3 linked regions of the Homo sapiens genome follow. The protein of the gene in region 3 interacts with the protein of the main gene of each other region in a pairwise test. Each region holds a gene or a part of one and is shown on either strand. Other genes may lie near its edges.

Region 1 (7,039 bases), on a different chromosome or scaffold from region 3:
GAAATACATCCTTTTTTTTTTTTTTAAGTAAGAATTTGATGAAGACTATAAGCTTCCACTCTTCAGAAAAATTCACATAAGTTTACATACTCAAATGTGTCCAAATAATTTCAAGGAGTTCACTGACCTCTGCGGTTTATGGATAGGTTCAACGTTAGGGACTTTTGCTCTAGTTTTTTTTTTTTTTTTTTTTTTTTTTTTTTTTATAAGACAGAGTCTTTCTCTGTCGCACAGGCTGCTGAAATACAGTGGCGGGATCTTGACTCACTGCAACCTCTGCCTCCTCGGTTCAAGCGATTCTCCTGCCTCCGCCTCCCAAGTAGCTAGGAGTACAGGCACATTCCACCACGCCTGGCTAATTTTTGTATTTTTAGTAGAGAGGGCGTTTCATCATATTGGCCAGGCTGGACTTGAACTCCTGACCTCAAGTGATCTGCCTGCCTCGGCCTCCCAAAGTGCTAGGATTGCAGGTGTGAGCTACCGCACCTGGCCCATTGACAAGCTTTGAGCAGAGACTCCATGTAAGGTGAGACGGAGAAAGGGCACAGGTAGGCCATGGTGGCGGTGAGAGCATGGGGGAATGCGGTATGTGTGTGCATTTTACCAGCTACTTCTAAAATACATGGATGAGGTCAGAAGGGCCTGAACTATGGTGGCTGGACAGGAAATGGTGATTATGGGAGAAGCTTTGAAGGGAAAGCCAATCTAGTGACTGATTAGATACTGATGTTGGAGTTAAAAGGAGGACCAGAGATAACTGTCAACATGGGATCCTGAGTGACTGGAAAAAAGATAGTCTCATTCTCAGAAATAGTAATCAGAAGGGGAGCTGGTTTTATAGGGGAAGTGACTAGTTCATTTTAGATATCCTGAGTGTTTAATGACTTTGGGTGGGGGACAGTTCCAGCCCTAACGCATAGTCAGTTAGGCTGTTTTTTTGTTTTTGTTTTTTTGGCTCCAAGTTAAGTTTAGGATAAAGCCAGTATTATCTACCTTTGGATAAATAGACACATAGTAAACTTTACTCTTAATTAAACCACACAATCTCAAAAAAGGAGGCTAAAATTATACTCTAAAATAATATATTTATTAAATATATCATCAAAAGCTGACTTAAGAGACCTATGCGGTTAAACAAAGCAACCCAAATTATTTTGAGAAAGCATGAAGAATAAATGGCTGGCTGGGCATGGTAGCTCACACTTGTAATCCCAGCACTTTGGGAGGCCAAGACAGGTGGATCACGTTTGAAGTCAGGAGTTTGAGACCAGCCTGGCCAACATGGTGAAACCCCCGCCTCTACTAAAAATATAAAAATTAGCCAGGCGTGGTGGTGCATGCCTGTAATTCCAGCTACTTTGGAGGCTGAGGCAGGGGAATCACTTGAGCCAAGGAGGCGGAGGTTGCAGTGAGCCGAGATAGCGCCACTGCACTCCAGCCTGGGTGATAGAGTGAGACTCTGTCTCATAATAAATAAATAAATAAATAAATAAATAAATAAATAGTTGTTCATATAAATTACTTTAAAAATGCTGCCTTCAGTTTGGTTACATTAAAAGGAAAATTAGGGGAAGGAGGTATCAGTTTTAGGAAGAGAGCTTTGAACTAGAAATTAGGGACAGGAACCAGCACAGACCCTGCTGCTGTTGTTGGCTTGGCCTCTAGTGCTCCATGTTCTGGTAACAGCACTTTGTTTTCCTTTGGTGACTTGCTCACTTCTCATTTCATAAATTTGTTTCAACCTGTTTTTCTGGAGATAACTCTTAAAATAATTGACTGGTTTTCACCAAACTTGAAATAGTAATGTTACCAAGATACAAGCCAAGCAGAGTTCACATGTCATGTTGAAACAACAAAAAAGCCACTGATAATTTCAAAAAGTGCATCTTTATTCCTGGTGTGTACAAGACTGATGAGACTAAATCAATCAATATAAGTTTCAAAGCAGATAACTGCTGAATAGGTCTCCTGTTCACTGAGCCATTTATTACGAACTTGTATTTCGCCGACTGTGTAATTGTTGTTTGTGAAAAATGACCTAAAAGCATGACTTCACTTCTGTCAGCATAATCTTGATTCAGACTCAAATATTACAGACTTAACCAATTTCAATAAATATTTAATTTGCCAACAAAGTCACATCCAGGAAGCAAAACCCACTTGCACCTGCTCTGTGACTTTACAAAGAATGGGCCATTGCTTAGACAGAAAGGACCATACACGTCTTACCTGCAGTGGACAACCACAGGCCCTCGGCCCTGGGAAGCAAGTCTGTCTTCTTCTACATCCAGCATGAGCTGTAGGAGGGGCTGGGCACTGTCTGGAGTCTTGTGATCAGGCCATGAGGTGTACCAGTAATGCTTCACATGTTGGGTGTGGCTTCCTTGCTGAAAATAGCAACAGCCACCAAATGCCTCATTCACTTGTAGAACTAAAAGTCATCCAAACCACAATACTGAATGCCTTTTATCACCCCCATCTTGCTGGCAATTTATTTCTAGGTGGGAAAAAAATTTAGAAGATTTTTGAAGAGTGCCCTTTTACTTTGAGAAGACTTTACTGTCAGTAACCTGTTTGCAAAGTGAGAAAGTCATACCTTTGTTGAGATTTACATCTCTACCTATAGTTATAATATAGATCATATAAGTAACATATGCTAAATATATATTTATAATTTATTATAATAAACAAGATGGTAGGTGAAAATGTAGCCAAGAAAGAATGAGATATATTTTGTTTCCTGCTCTATGAGCATTCCTGACAAGTTATTATAAACATGTTAATCAATAGAACACTTAATTTCATATCAGTCATGCTAATACTTCTACACTCATCCAAAACTCCAGTATTTAATAGGAGTGAGGAATCACAGCAATAAAGAAGCTACATGAGATCCCTCTATTGGAAACACTTGGGTGAGGGCCCACACACCTCATCTCCAAACCCAGCACGGGTGAGGGTGTGGCATGAACCTCGCACTCCAGAACATGTGTTGAAAAATAAGTTTTGGTAAATGCCTTCCTATTCCAAACTTCCCCGGCACTCCAGAACATGTGTTGAAAAACAGGTTTTGGTAAACGCCTTCCTATTCCAAACTTCCCAACAAAAGCCATCACTGTAGCTCTGCCCCTGTTTTCTTCCTCTTTGTGATGATTCTATCCCAGCAGTGAGGCTGCAGATAAGATCGAAATTTTTGGGTGATTATTCTCCAGAAGCAAAAATAATACCATGGTAACATTTCTCAGCATCTGCTGCCCATGAGTTAAATAAGATAGTTTTCCTATGACATAATCTCGTCTGGGGAAAGTCCCTATAAATTACTGTAACTCCACGCTTCTGAAGATCTCATCAACACTTCAGGCTTGCCTTGCTTCCCACTGCCACCCACAAATGCAGATTTTCTCTTTCACAGCTTCCAGGCCTTACGCAAAGCTGCTTAGATCAAAATGACATTAAAAAAAATCATGGTAAAGTCTCCAGCACAGCCTTTAGTTAAAAGCTTTCAAAAGGTTAAATCAGAGATATTTTATTAACGCAAATTAGAGGATCACAACATCCTACATAATGAATTTTCTTAATGTCTACTTACATTCATTTAATTATACTGCATATTAATAGTAGTTGACAACAAAAAATACATGAGGGAATGATTATAGTTTCTCTTTGATCTTAACATTATTTAATTTGCTTAAATTGCATTTGTAGTACTTAAATAATTTCAAAGTAGAAATGTAATCCTCTAACATCATCTACTTTGTAGATGGCTATAGCTACATAATCTTACCTTTAAGACAAGGTTTCGAATGGTGTAGTTATCACATTCATTTACACTGATAACCAGAACCTCAACTTTTCCATATATCCCTCTCTTTTCCGGCCAGTATAGCACACATTTCTGGAGGAAGGGAAAGAGAATACAGCAAATATTAATGGCTTTTATTAGCCATGGAGTACTTTTCATTCAAGCATCTCAAGAGTTTTATATCATTAGTTTTAAAATATCAAATATCAATTTTTATAGTTTTGTAAATATACTAAAACCATTGAATTGTAAATCTTAAGCAGCTAGATTTTATGGTATATAAATTATATCTCAACAGTTTTTTTTAAAGTATCAGTTTCATATGTGCCTATTAAACACTGTCACTGCTGGCTCCATACAAAAAAAAAAGGCAGAATTACCCAAAACTCCTCAGAGAAATTAAGAACTAATTAAGAAGTTAAGAAATTTAAGAGTTAAGAAATTGAGATCCAAATATTAGAATTTATCATGTGCTGACTAGAAATAAAAGAATGTTTTCCCACAATAATTGAGGAAAGTTACATTTTCCTGCTTCAACAAACTTATGTCTAATGAGAATATCTAATATGTTAGGTGGCATACAACCAAGTTTCCTTTATATGTAAGGCAGATATAATGATCATTAATACAACTATGGTATTATATTTTCCCGGACCAACAGTTTTTTTCACTTATGGAACTAATTTACAAAAATTACGTTAAAAATATTTTTATAATGGATCCTCCTGAGGAGCTTTAAAAGAGTGACAATAATTATACTGCAAGCAAGGCAACATAGCATGGTGGTTAAGGCGCAGGCTTTGAACTCGGAACCTGAGTCCAAATTTTGGTTCTACCATTCATTACCTGTGAATCCACGAACAAGATACTTAAACCCTTTGGTTATAGTTTCTTTATTATTGGCTATCTGGAAAGTACTTAGGATAAAGCCAGGCATAGAGTAAGCACTTACAACATGTTATTATTGCTGTTGTTATTTTAAAACTACTGGGTGATAGGTTTTTGGCCCAAAGTGATTAGATCTTCATGCATTAAATATTATTTTGGTATTATTATAGTCAGTTATCATTATTAAATAAAAATTGCAAAATGAGATTCAAGCATACATATAATCTCATTTTGCTTTTTAAACAACTGTAAAATAACTATTTTTTACCACAAATTTTGATGATAAAGAATGTAAAATGACAAATGTTTATGTTTTATTTTGAGTGCTCTTGGAAGCAATGTTAATTTTAGAAATGTTTAAATAGCACTTATTTTCTCCCAACCATACATACATTTACATAGAAATTCTTTCATTTGTTGCCTTCAATCAGAACCTTTTAATACCCAGGACACTTGTTTCTTCACATCTTTGTCAAAGGCATATGAATACACTTGATAAAAATTTAAATACTTATAGATTTAAAAGAGCAGCAAAAGACTCACAAAATTATAGAACTGAAGGAAAAGTGACACAAAGTATCAGAAACACACCTCCAGGGCTCTATTATGCTAAGTACCACTACTCTACAAGCTAGCACAGCGAAGGAAGTCACTTCACCTAGCAGAATCAGTTTCTTTCATCCATTACAATAAAAACACATTTACATCCTCTACATTTTGACCCTTTTTCTAAATGAAGTAAATTGTTTCAGCTTTATTTACATGCCACCTGAGACTCTCAGGCTATCAGACCAAAAGACTTACTCTGGCTGACTTAATGTTAACATTAAGAGAAGAAACCTTTTTAAAGTAGAGCAACTCATTTCTCTCGAAATCTATGAGTTGCCAAATGTCTAAAATTTTCCCACTTTGTTAAAGGTAATCATACAAACCAATTTGCCTGGTTTCTTTCAATGAAGCATCAATTATTTCGCTGTAAGACCCGAGCTACTGTGTATCTTAAAACCCATGCCTCCCGATGAGTCCAAGAAGAATGACAAAGAATCTTGGAAAAGGTATTGAACAAAGAAAGAGGCATTCATTCAGTAGTCCAGCAGTCTGGCGTACGTGCCCCATTGTCCACGATCAGACCTGAGCAGCAGGGCCCTCTTTAGGAAGGTGGCTCTCAAAACCAGTAAGAAAAGCTGCAAAGCAGGAGCTTGCCGCCTGCACCCTGACTCTTAATACTTGCACAGGCTTCTGCACCTACTTGATAAATGGAAATGCTGCTCGCTTCTCTCCCAAGCTTGCCGGGGGCCCTCTTGAATGTTTTTTTTGACTCGTTACCAAAAAAGCAATTGGCAGTCAGCTCCCAGTAGACAATGCAATGTGACTTGTTCATTCAAACAACCCTTAATTAGCATCCCATCTCCTTTCTGAGATACAATAGCTTATTTTTACACACTGAATACATTTTTCCCTCATTTAGATGACAGAAAAAGAGACCAGATAAGTGTGGGTACTTTTGAATATGAGGTGGGGGACAGCTGCAAATGCAGTTGTTTCTAAGAGTACAAGTTCATGTTCAAATTATTTTCCTGTACAGCTTTTTAGGGTTTCTTTATTGTGGTGCTAACAATGAGATAAAAGAGGCAGAAAAGGCAGGGAAGAAAAATGCTGCCTTACAGATAATACTGTGAAACCACACTAATTGTAGGTGATTCAAAATAGCATGCTATTTAGCAGAATATAACCCCAAATCATCACTATTCTTTTGCTAGCTAGGCTTATCCTTTCAGTAAAATTATCTATTAATTCTAAGAATCCATAATTTGGAAGAAAAAAATAGGTTTCCAGAGGACAGTGTCTCTTGTGCAAACAAGTTATTATCAAACTCTGACTGAAAAGATTCTGGACATTAACCAGTGCTTTGTAACTGGTGGTTTACAGCAAAAGTAGGATGTAACACAAAGCAATGCAAATTCTTTTTTTTTTTTTTTTTTTTTTTTTTTTTTTTTTTGTGATGGAGTCTCATTCTATCACTCAGGTTGGAGTGCAGTGGCACAATGTCAGCTTACTGCAACCTCCACCTCCCGGGTTCAAGCGATTCTCCCGCCTCAGCCTCCCAAGTAGCTGAGATTACAGGTGTGCACCATCACGCCCAGCTAATTTTTGTATTTTTAGTAGAGACGGGGTTTCACCATGTTGGCCAGACTGGTCTTGAACTCCTGACCTCAGGTGATCTGCCCACCTTGGCCTCCCAAAGTCCTGGGATTATAGGCGTGAGCCACTGCGCCCGGCCGCCAGCTCATATTTTTGTGATCTTTTTTCTTCCCTTGATTCTCCTTCTGGCCCCCACCAAGTTAGGGC
Region 2 (6,891 bases), on a different chromosome or scaffold from region 3:
TCAGCCCCCATGAAACTCAGCAGCTCTTCCCTCTGCACCATCCCTGCTCCATCCTTCAAGGCGCCCCCTCCCCGACTGAGTCTCAGCCTCTCAAAACGGTGAGTCCATCTTTCCCCAGGGGACGTTCCATCACTGACCAGTCCCCTACCAACGGTCCCAGCCCCGCCAGAGGAGTTGGAGTTGCTGTTTCCACCTAAGACTGGGGGGCCTGACGAGGTCTCCAGGGGCCCAGCGGAGGAGGGAGGGTCAACGGTCCCCCGCCACTGCAGGATGCCACGGACTGAGCCTCGGACAGAGCGACCCACTGAACGCAGGGAAAAGCGCTTCTTGAGCTTCGGCTTGGAGGAGGTTGTAGAGGAGGAAGAGACTGAGGAAGGGAGGGGGCCGGCCAGGTCCTCAGATGATCGAGAAGGGCCCAGCACAGCCAGGGGCCCACCCACCCTGCAGCTCTCAAGGGACAGGTCATGTGGCGAAATCTCCGCACCAGGGCTCAGGGGAGCCAGGATGGGTGGCGACAGGGAGCCAGAGGCCCGGGCCACCTCGGCTTCAAAGTGCTGCAGGAAGAGCTCAGCAAAACGGCGGGAGAAGGCAGCCTCGGCCCCGGGCCCCGCATATTGGGGGTGGGAGGCCAGGTAGAGGCGAAAACGGCGGGCAAAGTCCAGAGCCGCAGCCCGGGCGTGGGACTCACAGAACTCCCGCCAACTAGGGGGCGGGGGTGGGGGCAGCGGGGGAGACGAGGGGGAGGCCCCGTCCTCTGGGGAAGGGGCACCATTCATGATGGGCCCCAGGAGGTGGAGAGGGGGAGCCTGTGGGGCACAAAGAGGGAGGCAGCCAGAAGACGAGGGGTGGGCGGCAGCAGCTGCGAAAGGAAGAGAGAGGCACACACGAGGGTCACTGCTGAGGGCGCACCGGAGGCTGCATCCCACCCCCAGCCAGAGACGTCCGACCCTACTTCAGACTCCGCAGAGAGCAATGGGGAAGGGAGCCCAACACCTCCCTTCCCTCTCCCAGATCCTGGCACCCTGCAGGCCCCAGCCAACTGGCTCCCCAGCGTCTAACCTGCCCCGAGCCTGCCACATTTGCCCCCACTTTCCTTAGCTTTGGATCCAGCAGTAGAGGGCTTTGGAGCACCTTCCCCCTAAAAAAGGGAACTTTTCCAGATCACCCCCCCTCTACATCGGATCCTCCAATATTCATGTCACACTTCCCATGAGCCATTCTAGAGGCTCCCACTTGGTTATCTTACCTTTCCCTGAGAGGTTTCAAAGACCTCTCGAACAGATGAGGAAACCGAAGCTCAGAAAAGTTTCAGAACTCCAAGTCTACTGTTTTCCCCACTTCATAGTCCCTGTCCCCAGGGCCCGGCTGGGCCAGCCTCAGCCATAGCACCTCACCGCCCCAGCTCGCAGGGGGCTAGAGAGGAGCTGGGATTCTAGACCTTAGAGAGCCTGCCTCACGCATCTTAGGGTCCAACTCTTTGGAGGGGGCCGATTCATTAATGAGGATGGATGCATGATGGACCAAAACAGTAATTGTCTTGAAAGCTGACCCCAGAGTCCAGCACCCACGCACTGCGTGAAGGAGATGTGAAATAGCTACAGCCCACTTCTTTGGTATCCCTTCAGTCTGGGGCCAGAGGCCGCAGGGGCCCCAGAGGAGAAACTGGGTTGGCTCAGGTCAAGTCTTTGCTGGCCTCACGTAAACAAAACATCACAGGGAGAGCTGGGGCCCTAGGATTTTTCACCTTCCTCTTCTCCCACTGGGGAGTATGCCCTAAAGGCAGGTTAGCCTTCTGGTTAAGGCCATGGACTTGAGTCAGACCAGGGCTCAAACCACCTTATGAGCACCCAGTCCAGCCACCTTATGAGCGATGTTATCTTGAACAAATTCCACGTCCTCTCTGAGCCTCCGTTTTTCTATCTGTTAAACAAAGCTAATGATCCCTCCCCTCGAAATGTTGAGAGAATTACATGGAATGGGGTATGTCAGCGCTGAACGCAAAGTAAGCATCCGCTGAACGACTGCCATTGTTACTATCTTCATGTGGGAGAAGAATATTATTGTTCCAATTTTCTAAAATAGAAATTAGAGAAAGGAGGAGCCCTCTCAAGGTCTTACAACTAGAAAGTGGCAGAGCTGGGTGTGGAATTTACAACCCTTGGCTCTTGTTAGCGCTCCTCCCGCCACGCAATACTGGAAGGTGACAGCCCCAGGACTGGGGCCAGAGCAGCTCAGGAAAGCCTCCCCAAACCCTCAGCGACCTCAGACTCCTGTTCAAACCTACAGCCAGGCTGTAAGTCGGTGAACCCTCCCCTTCCTCCTGGGCCTCGACCCTACAAGCTCAGATGGCTCCAACCGCAGGGACAACTCCAAACCAACGAGAAACAATCAGGAGATGCAGGAGTCATGGAGCACGGGGGAACCCAGCCAAGAAGTGCAAACCAATCTCCAGCCAGCGGCCACCTCGGCTCACACAGGCCCACCCAATCCTCCGCACCGCAGACAGACCCAGCCCCCTTCAGGCCCGCTGACCCTGCGACTCCTAAGCTGGTGACTCAGTTTCTCTTCTGCCAAGCAGGACTCAGACACATTTTCCCGGTGCACCTGCCTCCTGGCTCAGTTCTGATATTTCCCGAAGGGCGGGAGGTGGAGGGTGCAGGCTCCGCTCTCGGCTCGGACCCTCCGGGCCCGGTGGTCCATATACTCCGATCCGACCCTACTCCCTGGACACCCCCCAGCCGCCCATTTTCCGGGGCCGCATCCACCTCGGGACCAGCCCTGTCTGCTGCACTCTCCGGGGCCGAGTGCCTCTCCAGCCCCCGGCCCTCCACGCCCACCCCCACCCAGGAATCCTCTCGGGCGCCAGGGCCGGGTCGCGGAGAGGGAAAAGGTACTTGAAGAGGGGGGTTCCGGTTCCGGTCCCACCTGCATCTCGGTCCCCGAGGTTAGCTCCGGCGGCGGCGGCGGCGGCGGCGGCTCCCGCTCCCTGCGCCCCCACCCACTACGCGACGAGCGCCCAGCCCGGTTCCGCGCAGGCGTCAGGACCCCCTTTCCCGTCGCTGAAGGAAGAGACCATAGAGAACAGCGGCGGGAGGGAAGGGCACCTTCATACTTACTTCCGCCATCCTCCCACTCGGCGCCGACCCCAGGAGACCGAAGACGGTGTGAATCTCGTAGGGCTTCAGTGCCTTCTCCAGTTGCACCTAAAAGCGACCACAGACGCAGCGGGGGAAGTGCTTGGATCCCACCAGAGCGTCCTCCCGGAGGAAATTCGGGACAAAGGGGCGATGTCGACCATAGAGAACCGGCCTTAGGGGATAGAGTCCCAGGGCCCGGCTGAGGGCTAGAGTAGCCGCCGAGCACCGGAAACCAGCGAGATGATGAGGCTGTGTGAACGGCCCGCTGCAGCCTAGAGCGCCGGCCCCGCTGTGGAGGGGCACGCGGACAACGCCACCAAGGAGCTGAGCGAGGAAAGAAGCGGGTGACCTTGGGGAGGCCCTGCGGGGAGGCGGAGCCTGAACTTACGACCTTGGTTTATCTGAGGAAAGGGGCAGGCGGTCCAGGAGTTTGCATCTCTGAGGCTGGAGATGAAGATGGTGGTAGTGGTGGGGGAGGGGGTGGGTAGAAATAATGAGGTCAGGGCCGGGCGCAGTGGCTCATGCCTGTAATCCCAGCACTTCGGAAGGCCGAGGCAGGTGGATCACCTGAGGTCAGGAGTTCGAGACCAGCCTGGCCAACATGGTGAAACCCCGTCTCTACTAAAAATACAAAAATTAGCCGGGCATGGTGGCGCGCGCCTGTAGTCCCAGTCCCTCCGGAGGCAGAGGCAAGAGAATAGCTTGAATCCGGAAGGCAGAGATTGCGGTGAGCCGAGATGGCGCCACGGCACTCCAGCCCAGGCAACAGAACTAGAATCCCTATTTTAAAAATAGAAAAAAAAAAAATGAGGTCAGGGCCGGGAGCGCTGGCTCACGCCTGTAATCCCAGCCCTTTGGGAGGCCGAGGCGGGCGGATGGCTTGAGGTCAGGAGTTTGAGACCAGCCTGACCAACATGGTGAAACCCCGTCTGTACTAAAAATACAAAAAATTTAGCCGGGCGTGGTGGCAGGCGCCTGTAATCCCAGCCCCTTGGGAGACCGAGGCAGGAGAACAGCTTGAACCCGGGAGGCAGAGGTTGCGGTGAGCCGAGATGGCGCCACGGCACTCCAGCGCGGGCAACAGAGCTAGACTCCCTATCAAAAAAAAAAAAAAAAAAAAAGAATTGAGGTCAAGGCCGGACGCAGTGGCTCACGCCTGTAATCCCAGCACTTTGGGAGGCCGAGGCGGGCGGATCACTTGAGGTCAGGAGTTTGAGACCAGCCTGACCAACATGGTGAAACCCCATCTGCAATAAAAATACAAAAATTTTAGCCGGGCTTGGTGGCAGGCGCCTGTACTCCCAGCTACTTGAGAGGAGGCTGAGGCAGAAGAATCACTTGAACCCCAGAGTCGGAAGTTGCAGTGAGCCAAGACTGCGCCACTGCAATCCAGCCTGGGCAAAAGAGCGAGACTCCATCTCAAAAATAATAACAATAATAATAATGAGGTCAATTCCAGACGTGCTTTTGGGACGTCTGTGGGCATATAGTCTGGAGCTAAGAAGAGACATCAAGGCCAGTTAGAGAAATCGAGAACAATTAAAGTACGGAGGGTAGTTGAAAGCATGAGCACAGTGAGATCCTCCACCCATCCAGTGTCTGATTGACCCGGCTCCAGCTGGCCTAAACAGTAAAGGAAGCTATGGCCCAAGTAATCGAAAAGTCCAGAGCGGACAGATTCAGACAGGTGAACACAGGGGCCAGAAGATATCAGGAACCTGTGGCTCACCATCTCTGGTTCTGCCTTCCCTATGCATTTGGCTTCACCCTCAGGCAGGCTCTCCTCTCTTAGTGGCAAAATAGCTTCTTGTAGCTCCAAGCTTAAACCCTAATAGCTTAGCAACTCTCCTAGAAGGAGCATGCCTCTTTTCTGAGATTCCCAATGAAATTTCCAGAACTGAGTAGCTGATTGGATCAAGTGCCCATCCTGGAACTCGAAGACAAATAAATAACCCAAGAGGGGAAGACGGATAAATCCTGACTCACCTAAGAATGTTCAAGGCCGGGCACAGTGGCTCACGCCTGTAATCCCAGCACTTTGGGAGGCCGAGACAGGCGGATCATGAGGTCAGGAGATCAAGACCATCCTGGCTAACACGGTGAAACCCCATCTCTGCTAAAAATACAAAAAAAATTAGCCAGGCGTGGTGGCGGGTGCCTGTAGTCCCAGCTACTGGGGAGGCTGAGGCAGGAGAATGGCGTGAACCTGGGAGGCAGAGCTTGCAGTGAGCCGAGATCGCACCACTGCACTCCAGCCTGGGCGACAGAGCGAGACTCCGTCTCAAAAAAAAAAATGTTCTAAGATGGCCGGGCGCAGTGGCTCACGCCTGTAATCCCAACACTGGGAGGCTGAGGCGGGCGCATCATGAGTTCAGGAGTTCAAGACCATCCTGGCCAACATAGTGAAACCCCACCTCTACTAAAAATACAAAAATTAGCTGGACATGGTGGCACATACCTGTAATCTCAGCTACTCAGGAGGCTGAGGCAGGAGAATCACTTGAATCTGGGAGGCGGAGGCTGTGGTGAGCCAAAATCGTCCCACGGCACTCCAGCCTGGGCAACAGAGCGAGACTCCATCTCAAAAAACAAAAAAGTGCTGGGCATGGTGGCTCAGTCCTGTAATCAATCCCACTGTTATCAATCCCAGCACTTTGGGAGGCTATGGTGGGCAGATCACTTGAGGTCAGGAGTTTGAGACCAGCCTAGCCAACATGGCGAAACCTCATCTCTACCAAAAATATAAAAAATTAGCCACGTGTGGTGGCGCGTGCCTGTAATCCCAGCTGCTTGGGAGGCTGAGGCACGAGAATCGCTTGAACCTGGGAGGTGGAGGTTGCAGTGAGCCAAGATCATGCCACTGCACTCCAGACTGGGCAACAGAGCGAGACTCCATCTCAAGAAATTAAAAAAAAAACAAATCTGGAGTCCTAACTGTTGGAACAGAAATCACATACCAGAGACCAGGGAGTGTGGGAGTGAGTATAAGATGTGTGTGTGTCGGGGGGAAATGGGCAAACACAAACACAAATGATATAAAGGGATCCGTGGGGGATCACAGGGTGTGCTGCCATGGTCTCTAGAAGGCATTGATAACTAAGAGACTGCTGCGTGACTTGGTGAGAGTAGTTTCAGCAGAGGCCAAATGGTAGTGGTTTGAGGAATGAGTGGAAGGTAAAGAAGTGGGAGGAGGCTGGGCACGGTGGCTCCCGCCTGTAATTCCAGCACTTTGGGAGGCCAAGGCAGGCGGATCACCTGAGGTCAGGAGTTTGAGACCCGCCTGGCCAACATGGCAAAACCCTGTCTCTACTAAAATTAGCCAGGCGTGGTGGCACGCACCTGTAATCCCAGCTACTTGGGAGGCTGAGGCAGGAGAATCGCTTGAACCTGGGAGGTGGAGGTCGCAGTGAGCCAAGATCGTGCCACTGCATTCCAGCCTGGGTGACAGAGCAAGACTCCATCGTAAAAAAAAAAAAAAAAAAAATTCAAGAAGTGGGAGGAAAAATGTGGAGAGATGTTCTACACAGTTTGGCTGAAAAGGGGAGGACAGAGATAAGGCAGGTTGTAAGTGTGAGAAGGTAGAAAGGTTTGCTTGTTTGTTTCTATCTTGAGGAAGATCTGATTTTGTTGGAAACATTAAGGGGAAAGGAATCAGTAGAGAGGATGGTCGCTGAAGGAGCAAGGTTGCGGAGAAGGTTGGTGGGGACGTTATCCAGGGCCCAGGTTAAGCCAAGGCATTAATATGAAGGGGAGA
Region 3 (4,486 bases):
AGAAGAGTAACAGAGGGGCAGGAACAAGGGGTCCTGCCTCCATCAATCCTTAGTCCAGCTCCGTCCCTTTCCTGCCCCCCATCACCCCACACACACACACACATGTTTCTCTCTCATCTGCTGCTGCGTGCTTGCTCTGTCCCGGACACACCAATACAAGGAAGACACCCCATCAACGCTCCCATCCTACCAGTACATCTAACTTCCACCCCTTCCACTATAGCCCAGCCTTCCTGAACATGAACTACAAAGATTGACAGTTAGGCTCTCAAGGTCTAGGAAGTTTGACCAGAGGCTGCCTTACCAGCAGGTGAGCCAGGTGACCATGGGAATGGGATCCAAACTATAGTCAAAGGTGAGAGTGACAGGTCCATGGAGTAGGGGTAGGCAGCTGAGGGGAACCTGAGTGGGGGAAGATCCCAGAGAGCTGTCCCCCTACCTGAATCCCAATGCCTCCCTCCTGGAACGACGTCATCCCAATAACTGGCAAGAGACACAGCCAAGGGATAATAAATATAATTGCTATGACGGGACCTTGCCTAGAGAAGCAGGAACATCCTCTACTCCCAGCCCCCACCTGTCCCTTCCCACATGCTGAGGGTGAATTAGATACTTTGAGATCACCCTGGGGCTGCTGGGAGCTATGGGGGATGCTGAGGGCAGGCCCCAGTATTCCGGCTAACCACTCCCAGCCCCTGGGCCGGCCCCCTAGCCCAGGACATCCAGGTAGACAGGAGGTGCCTGGGCCAGGGCTTGCAGCCGGGCGTGCACATCCTTGATGCTGTGGCGTTGCTGGGGCTCCCGCTGCCAGCAGCCCCGCATGATGGCGTAGACCTCTGGTGGGCAGGCACGTGGCCGCTCCAACTCACGTCCCTGCGTGATGCAGTCGATTGCCTGGGGCCACCGGAGAGACAGAGGAGAAAGCCCACTAGGCTGGGGGCAAGAGAGTGAGGCCAGTCCCAGTGCCCTCACTGAGGCTCCCAAGGCAGCTCACACTACTCGTCTGGGCTTCTTAGCTGCTAATAACCCGAATGGACACAGTCAACCCCAGGATTCATTTCTGCTCTGACACTGAGAAGTGAGAAGGATTAAGGCTCGACTATGGGAAGCTTGGGCTGGGGTAGGATTGCTTCCAGAAAACTGGGATCAGATCCTAAGAAGACTTGCCAGGTGGGTTGAGGAAGGCGAGGGGCTGAGGTATTTATCAATCCATCAGCTTAGTGTTGGGGGCTGAAAGGAGGAGGAGAAGGGCCCTCTGACTCTCAGCTCCAGAGAGAGAAAAGAAAATAGAGCAGAACTGCAGTTAAAGGGCGTGAAAAATAGCTGGCTTTCATTTTAAAGAAGAGGGCAATCCTTACTTCTCCCTTCTAGGGATACCACTCTGTGGGACTGACTAGCTCTCCCAAAAAGAAACTGCAGCAAGAAAGATCAAAGTTAGACTCTAGGAAGAACTGCTAAAGCAGCCAAGGAATCCAAAGGAGAAAGGGTGGCAGGGAGTGATTGGAGAAGGGGCCTGGAGCCTCTTTTCCCCTTCTTCCCCCCTCCCTATTAGAGGACTTGGGTTATGGGCGGCACTAATTCCATTTCTTCTCTCAGTGCTTGAGAAAATTAAAATCTATAACCCTCTCCCCCACCCCACCAGCCTCCGGGGAGCAGACTGCATTAGGAGGAGAAATGGAAACTGACAGCTGCGAGCCAAGCAGGGGGTGGGGGCAGCTGCTCTGGGAGACAGAACACCTGGGGCCTGCTCTGGCTGTGGCCAGCTAGGAGGGCAGGGGGAGGGGGTAGGACTGTCCTTCTGACAGTCTAACCTCCAGCCGTCCTGCTGCAGTGTTGGGCCTTCTTGTGCTGGGTTCCTCTTCCCGTGCTGGTCCCTTCCACTCTGATAATTCCTGCTTAGGTCTATAAAATGCAGCTAGGGATGGGGGTCTGGGCTCCTTGTACAAAGCACTTTGAGGTTCCCCCAGGGGCCAACTGGGCCTGGGCTTAGGACAGTAGGTGAAGGCAAGAATAAGGGAGGAAGAGAAGAAAAGGGCCACAGTGGAGGGGACACAGTGTGGGCACGGCGCTGGAAAGGGCCCCCCAACAGGCTGTGGCAGAGGGGCAGAAGGGGAACCGAGTTCCCTGAAAAAGGAACCTGAAGGGGCATGGGACGGGGAGGCCAGCAAGGGGTGACCATGGGCCGGGGCTGACCTCCGTGTTGGAGAGCTGGTACCAGGGCTGCTTGCCGTAGGTGAAGATCTCCCAGAGCACCACGCCGAAGCTCCACACGTCGCTCTCGGTGGTGAACTTACGGTACAGGATGCTCTCGGGCGGCATCCAGCGAATGGGCAGCATGGTGCGGCCTCCCACCTGCCACGGGCGGACACTGCATCAATTCCAGGGGCGCCTGGGACAGCCCGTCAAGGCACAGCCTACCCCAGCCCCATCATTAAAAATAAATACACAAGCTCGGTGGTTCACGCCTGTAATCCCAGCACTTTGGGAGGCCGAGGTGGGCAATCACGAGGTCAGGAGATCGAGACCATCCTGGCCAACATGGTGAAACCCCATCTCTACTAAAAATACAAAAATTAGTTGGGCGTGATGGCGTGTGGCCTGTAATCCCAGCTACTCGGGAGGCTGAAGCAGGAGAATCGCTTGAACCAGGGAGTCAGAGGTTGCAGTGAGCCGAGATCGTGCCACTGCACTCCAGCCTAGCAACAGAGTGAGACGCCGTCTCAAAAAAATAAATTAAATAAATAAATAAACAAACAGTGGTGGCTCTCAGGTCTAAGAGGCAAAAACCGAAGGTGCTGTTTCCATCTGGGATAGCGAAGGAGACAGAGCCCCCTCCACCAGGAGCCGAGGAGGTAGGTTGAAAACCAGAGCCAGTGAATCTCAGACCCATGCAGCCATCCTAGCAAGGGCAGGCTCTCAGTGGTCTTGGGATCCAGGGTGTCTACAGTTTGGATGCAGGGGAAGGCGTTGGGGACAAAGGACCCTTACACGGTAATAGTCGGTGCTGTAGATATCCCTGCTCATGCCAAAATCACCAATCTTGACCACCAGTCCCTGGCCCACTAGACAGTTGCGTGTGGCCAGGTCCCGGTGCACAAAATGCAGACCCGCCAGGTACACCATCCCCGCAGCGACCTGGCTAGCCACGGCCAGCAGCTGCCCCAGACCCAGGGGGCCTGGAGCCACATCCTCCCCACCAGCCAGCAGCTTGGCATCAGGTCCATGGGATCTGTGAACAAGAAAAGGAGAGGGGATAGGCTGGGAGGATAGAACTCCCAGGAGCCTGAGGAAGGCGATCCCCAGCAGCCGCGTGTGATGGGAGAGGAGACTGGGGACCTGGAAGTGGAGGATTGAGAGAACAGTAGAGGCAGCTGTCCAGAGGGGTGGGATGGAGGAGCGGAACAGGTGTGCCCACCTCCAGGGCTCCCACCAGAGACAGCCCATGGTTCCCACATCCATGCCTTCCTCTCTGGCAGCTCCTTGAACTCCAGATGCCCACTGGCCCCTACATCCCTTGCCATAGGCATGTCAGACTCAGCCCTTGCCAATTGGAGCTCGGTGTCTTTCCCCAAGCCTGCCCCTGCCTCAGGGAAGGGACCCTTCCCACCCAGGCAGACCCTGAAACCAGGGAGTCCTTGATTGTCCTGTCTCTCTCCCCTCTGCCCTCAGTGTCCAGCCATTCCTACGGGGTCTTCCTTCCTTTCGAAGGTGTCCAGGATGCCCGCCTTCTCCCCAGAGCGAGCACTCGGGTCAGTCCTAGTCACTCATCCATATTCCCCAATGTTCCTTCTCCTGAACCTTTGCCTGAACTGATCACTTTGCCAAAAATGCCCTTTCCTACTAGCCAATCTTCTCCTCATTTGTTTAGTTGAGGCATTTGTTAAACATTTCCAGTGTGCCAAGCACTGGGGCTACAGTGCAGAGTATGATGCAGATAAGCAGGTCATGGCAGTGCAGTGTGAGGGGCACCTGGCAGGCACCACGGGTGGGAATGGAAAAAGCCAGGGAAGGCTTCCTAGAGGAAGGGACACCTAAATTGAGACTCAAGTCCTGAAGCCATTCGAAGGGAGCTGAGGCAGGGAGGGGTAGAGTTTGTGTGTCTGTCTCCATCTTTCTATGGAGGGAGGGAGGCCCAATGCCCCAGGCAGAGGGAACTGGAAGTACAAAGGCCTGGAGGGGAGAAGGAACAGATGGTCCCTCCTAGGGGAAGTCTTCCAGACTCATCTCTGAGCATTAATGATTCCCTCCATTGATTCCCCCAGTGTTCCATCCAGCAGTTAGAGCCTCGTCTCCCACAGCCTGGGCCCCAGATGCTGGTATCTCCCTAGCCTGTGTCCCCAAGACCAGCACTGAGCCTATGCCATGTCTGGGAGCAAAGAGATAGGCTCCTCCCTGGCCTTCTTGGGCTCCTCTGTGCCTATCCTCCTCCACACTCAACCTTGGGTCTGGCCTCGCCTCCTGCTCCACACCCTGCATGGGCTCCCTC

The links.
Region 1: the proteins of NTRK1 (region 3) and PTPRR interact in a two-hybrid assay, tested with the Homo sapiens proteins (one study listed by BioGRID and IntAct).
Region 2: the proteins of NTRK1 (region 3) and SH2B1 interact in a two-hybrid assay, tested with the Homo sapiens proteins (2 studies listed by BioGRID).

Annotation. Positions count from the first base shown.
Region 1 is NC_000012.12:70,658,711-70,665,749, forward strand, and holds part of PTPRR (receptor-type tyrosine-protein phosphatase R isoform 1 precursor), read right to left. Parts: intron 3,896-7,039; coding exon 3,785-3,895; intron 2,498-3,784; coding exon of another isoform or gene 2,492-2,497; exon of another isoform or gene 2,388-2,491; coding exon 2,230-2,387; intron 1-2,229. UniProt on the Homo sapiens protein: Sequesters mitogen-activated protein kinases (MAPKs) such as MAPK1, MAPK3 and MAPK14 in the cytoplasm in an inactive form.
Region 2 is NC_000016.10:28,859,980-28,866,870, reverse strand, and holds the start of SH2B1 (SH2B adapter protein 1), read right to left. Parts: upstream 3,029-6,891; 5' UTR 777-3,028; coding exon 1-776. UniProt on the Homo sapiens protein: Adapter protein for several members of the tyrosine kinase receptor family.
Region 3 is NC_000001.11:156,877,865-156,882,350, reverse strand, and holds the end of NTRK1 (high affinity nerve growth factor receptor isoform 2 precursor), read right to left. Parts: intron 3,230-4,486; coding exon 2,989-3,229; intron 2,353-2,988; coding exon 2,194-2,352; intron 895-2,193; coding exon 709-894; 3' UTR 501-708; downstream 1-500. UniProt on the Homo sapiens protein: Receptor tyrosine kinase involved in the development and the maturation of the central and peripheral nervous systems through regulation of proliferation, differentiation and survival of sympathetic and nervous neurons.